Linked DNA regions of Homo sapiens: region 1 is linked to region 2. The links come from fine-mapping of genetic effects on gene expression. Tissue or cell type: whole blood. Region 2 holds a variant in brackets; the other region holds the start of a gene. All regions are shown on one strand. Distances are between the middles of the regions.

The links. PIP is the estimated chance that this variant, and not a neighbour inherited with it, causes the effect.
Region 1: it holds the start of SLC8A1, and the variant in region 2 is fine-mapped to the expression of SLC8A1 in whole blood (TOPMed, PIP above 0.99).

Annotation. Positions count from the first base shown.
Region 1 is chr2:40,450,453-40,453,218 of GRCh38, reverse strand. It overlaps SLC8A1 (solute carrier family 8 member A1), which reads left to right and starts at 1,129. Exons shown (of 11, transcript NM_021097.5): 1 at 1,129-1,315.
Region 2 is chr2:40,510,132-40,512,897 of GRCh38, reverse strand. It overlaps LOC101929667 (a long non-coding RNA gene), which reads right to left and starts at 976. Exons shown (of 5, transcript XR_007086295.1): 1 at 811-976. It also overlaps a transcript of SLC8A1 not described here. The variant C/G (reference allele first, on the strand shown) is at 1,090.

The sequences.
Region 1 (2,766 bases), 60 kb after region 2:
CGGGAGAGTCTGCATCAGATTCGGCCTCAGATTCTACAGCATCTGACTACATTCCCAGGTGTGTGTGATGCGCAGCCAGGTTTGGAAGCTAGTGAACTCCACAGTAGGTCTAGCCTTTCACCACGTGAAGTCATTAAGGGTTTGTAAGAATGAATGAGCTGTCAAGAGAGGAAAGGCCTGGTGCAGTGTTCCTTTATTAATTATGAGGAAAGTGATTTATTGGCAATGATAATGCTTCTCTTGGAAAGGGCAAAGAATGGTTCGTCGATTGCTGCATTAGGTTTTTTCCCACTCAACCTTAATGCTCGGCTTTTACTCCTCACTGTAGTTTAAAACCAGCACGCCTTTCACACGAAACAGACTCTGGGTCTTTATTCCCAGGTGAAACGCATCTTTGAGGGAAATACCAACACAGAGACTCTGTCCCAGTTCTTGGCCGGGGGACACCCTCCCCCGAATATCTCTGTTTGCTTGTGTCAGCATCTAGTAGCCAACGTATAGTTGTGCATATCTGATACGTAGAAAAACACAGGGTGAGGATTAAAAAAAAAATCATTGATATATGCCCAGATCCTTTTGCTAAAAGAAAGCTTCCTTTAGCAGAAGGGCAGGAAGTGAGGGAAGAAAGATAGTTGGATTAACAAAGTCAGAGGTGAGAAACGGGTAGGCGAATTGGGGGTCAGGGTTCTGTCTGCGGAAGAGAAGAAGAGGGTTCAAAAGAAAAGTTGCAGCGCCTGTGTGCGCGTGTCATCGATGGGCTGGGTGCGAGAGACAGCGCTAGCGCGCGGCCACAACGCACTGCGGGGCCGAGAGCCGGCAGGAAATCGAAAAAGCTGCTCGCCGGCAGAGGCTGGGAGGCTGGAAGGGCTCCCCACCCGCTCGGTGCTCCAGAAACGCGCCGGCTTTGCCCCGACGCGATCGCCTGGGGAGCCCAAGGGGCGCGCAGGGGGCCCCGGGGCGCCCGGCAGCCGCGGGGCCGAGCGCGCGTGTGAGCGAGTGCGAGGCTGCGGGCGGCGGGCGGGCGAGTGTGCGCGGGAGGGAGGGGGAGCGCGCGCGCGCCCGGGCCCCGGCCCTCCCAGCCTCCCGGCCTCCGCGCCTGCCTCCCGCCCGCGCGCACCGCTGCCCGCTGCCGCGGCTCCCGCTCGCGCCGGCGCTGCACGGTAGTCAGCCCGCCGCCGCCGCCTGCTTTGTGCTTCCCACAGAAGATGGGAGCGACCTCTTCCTGATCGGGAGCTGTTTAAAAGGAGGGAGTGCGCCGTATTTTCTACTAGCGTGGAGGAACGGAGGAAGAATCCATTCACACTCCCCAAACCAGGTAGGATCTTATGATGGACAGGCAGAAGGCATTTAGTCAGAGACCAAGAACTATTTTCCATTTGCTGCTCATAAGGCTACACTTCCCTCTGCTTTGGCAAACGAGCGGCTTCTAAATTTGTGTGTGTGTGTGTGTGTGTGTGTGTGTGTGTGTGTGTGTGTGTGTGATGTGGTGTGTGCGCGCCTGCACATTTTTCTGGGTGTCCGCGCTTCCCAGAGTGAAATTGCTCGGGCTGGTGCGTCTGGGCGTGAGGGTGCCTGCCTGCCTGCCAGTGCAGGCTGCCGGAGGAAGAAAGGGCTGCTAAGGAGAGATGCTGCACCCTGCACCGCGCTGGGCTCTGAGGATTCAGGGCGCGAAGAGCTAAGTCCACCCCGAATGCAGAGCTGCTGGGGATCCAGGCGTCCCCACCCACTGGACTCTTCTCCGCGGACATCCCTCCTTCCGGTAATCCCTGGGGTCTTTCCCCAAGGCCACATTTCCGAGCCCCCTGTTTTCCAGCGGGCGTTGGGTGCTCATTCACCACGGACTGCGGAGAGGAGGGAGGTGTGGCGGGGCAGAGACAGACGAGGAAGAAATGTAGGGGGTAGCAGGGAGTGGGCTGCGGGGTCCACGTCTCTGGGCACTGTGCCGTGGTGTGCTTTGGGGATTCTGCACACACAGGCATCTTTCCCCAAGAGATTGGAAGGGAACTTTGCAGCTGCATTCTCTGCCTCTGGAGCTTTGCTGGCTCTTGGGGGAAATGGTCTGTGTTCTGAGATGTGAAGATATCCTTTTTGGCTCCTCCTTAATGAAGAAGAGGGCGGTCTTATAGCTGGACAGCCGGCCAAAGAAACCAAATCCGCCCAGGCGATGCTCTTGAAAATACAGTACGTGTGCATCCTTGATTCTTTAAATCCACCCCCTGCATCACCCCCGCCTCTTCTCTATCCCCCCCACCACCCCGTGGATTCTGTTGCTGTTTGATGAATGGCTTGGGCTGGCAATTTGTATTTCCCTCTCCAAAGTGGTAGTGGTTGAGTTGAGAACAGGGGTGATGAAATTTAACAAAGCATTTTTAGAAGAGAGCAATGTGCATGTTGTACGCAGTCATTGGAAAGTCATGCTTTGCGCTAGGTATCCTTTTGAAGCCCCCGAACCTGGCTCTCCTGAAGCCGCTCTCTCTCTCTCCTGCTAGTCAGCTACTAGTGGTTGTGAATATAACAATACAAACTTTGTCCTGCTGGAGGTGTAAAGACTAAAAAGAGAAAAAAAGGATATCAGTGGGAGGTGTAGTGGAAGAAGCTTTTTAAAAAATGACAGATGTGGTGAAGACAGTACAAGCGTCCTGATCATGGAGGAGCCTCTAGCTGAGTAGGTGGAGATTTCTGATCAGATCTGGTTAAAGGCATTGCTGGAGTATCTCCAGATATGAGCAGTTGAACATGCACAATCTGAGACTTGTGCGAAGATTT
Region 2 (2,766 bases):
CATTTCACAGGTCCCATATACATGCTGTCACTAGAATCTTTAAGGATGAAGACTCTAGTAAGGAACCATAATTGTCTCTCTGTTTTCATAAAGCTAGGCGAACCCACACCCTAAAAGCTTTATGTGGGAATCAGGTAAAAATTGGTTATGATCTAAATATTTGGAGAGTAGAAATGCCAATCTCAAAAGTGTTTTGGAAAAAAAAAAAAAAAAAAAAGCATAGTGACAGGATCATGTGGTGGGAAATGGGCCTGGCTGGAAGAATCGCTATATGTGTATTTTTATCATCCATGTGTTGGATGAAGCAGAGAGCTGCCAGATAGCTTCTTTTCGACAGCTTGGAGTTACTGTTGGGAACAGATCCATGTATGGAAGCGAAAGCCGAAAGGCACAGATAAGCTGAGATCCAGCTATGCAAACCATGTTTAGAGACACTTAAAGGACAAGCATCCCAGGTCCTTTCTTTCTGGTAAATTTAGAGAAGGCATCATACTGGGATCTTTTTTCACATCCAGCCCATGCGGACTGAGCAGCCAAAGCTTGACAGAGGTAGGTGCCGGGCTTTTGTGATGGAACTTCTATAAAGGATCATTTGCAAATATTTCCTCCAGAGCCCTTGATGTCCTTTAAGGGAAGGTGCCAGATAATATTTTGAAAAGAAAAACAAACAAACAAAAAAATAGGTTGGAGCTAGTGACTAAGAGGTATTTAACAGCTCTGCCTCCACAAGACAGGGAAGCTTTGCAACGGAAGGAAAGTGGCAACACAGATTTGCTGCCAAATAAAATCCCTCTGTCCTGGGTCACTTACCATTTGGAATTTTGTGGATACAAGTCTTCCTCGATATTGCCAGCACCTTTAGAAATGAGCCACAGCTTCCGCGGGGTTCTGAGACTCACTGTGTATTTTAGGCTAGGGTAGGTGGGATTTGTCTTTTTCCTTGCTTGTTCTCAAGCCAGCAAAAACTCGCATGTGTGACTAGTTCTTCCTTAGACATAGGAAGAGCTGCTTGTAAACGACATTATTTTTGGCAGCTGAAGTCATTTTTGCAATATTTCTCAGCAGTTCGGAGGTTGATTACATCCTGTT[C/G]AAAGATTCTTGGGTTGTTTTCACAAACACGGGGTCTTACGCAAGTTGAAGTTGCTGAAACCAGCTGTGAGCCCTGGGCTTTTCTCAGCACCTTTAAAATTTTGTCTTCTTTCTTTTTTTTCTACTGACTGAAAACTTTGGAACTTGAGAGGAAATGTTTCCAAAGATTATTATCGTTTTGTCATCAGTGATGTTTTGGGAATAGATTGTGGCAGAATATCAAAAATTCTGTGTCTCAGGAATGATGCAAGGTAAAAGTGTGAATATGAACAGAGTAACAACACCAGTATCTATACGACTGTCCTGTATTTTCTAGAATACAGATAAATCCAGCCAAATCATATCAATTGCATTTTGAAATGCGACTCCAGCTAATTACCAAATTGTAGTTATTAAATTAAAGCATATCTGTTAAAATTGTTAGCAAAGTCTGTGAACTCCTGCCAAACACAAAAGTCAAGAGAAAAAATTATAGGTCATATCTTTAAAATATGCATGTTTTGCCAAGATTGAATTAAAAAAATTTACACAAGATAATGGGATTTAAACTCAAGATTTATTTTACTGAGAATAATGTGTCCATAATTCAAATAAGATTTGAACCAATTGTTTTTACTTAGCTAAGTTTTCAATCTAGAGTATGAGTGGGAAAAAAGAAAAGAGAAATGGAGAAATATTGAATGTGACCTTCCTTCTCTGATGACAGACATGACATGGAAAATTATTAATAAGCAAGTGTAAGAAAATAAAAACAATTTGTAATACTGACCAAGGAGATGTTCTCTGGATAAATTAGATGTCTGGGAAAAGCAATTCATTTAACAGATACAGATGAAATGACTACTTATGTGGTGGTTTCTTTCAAGCTCTGAATGTCCCATTACACCAAAAAAGTGGCAGAGAAAGAGGAAATGTGTTTTTATTTCAATAGTGCACTATAATTATTAAAATAATTACAATACTAAGGGATTGTTTCCATCAAATTATTCTTTTATATGCCTATTTACATTGAGAGCACATTAAAATAACATATTTCTATATTTCTAAAATAGGCTATTTTACTTAAAAATACTAATATTCTATATTTGTGAGAGAGTTAGAAAGAGAGAGAGAGAATAAACTATGCCTTCTTTTTTTAAACTAACAGAGACAAGCTGTCATAACTTTTGCTAAAGTGGAACAGGCCTACGAAAAGATGGCTTTAAAATACTTAATTAAACACTATATACCAGCCGGCTTCTCAAAAGAAACAGCACAGCAGGAGTCTTTGCAATTTTCAATATGTAAAAGGTTGACATAAATGATGCCACTAGTGTTTGTGAACAGATGCAATGCATATATGATATCAGCTACTATCTTCTCGTTTGCCTACTGCCAAGTGCATTTCAAGTGTGCACTCCTCATGAGAAATGTCTGCTCCTGTTTTTTCTCTTGAAAACTAATCCAAGAAGCATAATATAAGTAATAGACAATGACTTACTGCTAATTTTGTATATACTATGTCAACATTTGTGGAAGAAAATTCATGACAGTCAAGCTACTTGCCCTTTTATTTCATGACTTCTTAAGCATTTAGTGATGACTATACATCTAGAAAATCTTAAAGAAATCATATTTTGAGAGGAAAATTGAAGGTGTTGGCAGTCTTACGTAAAAAAATAATAAATAAATAAACAA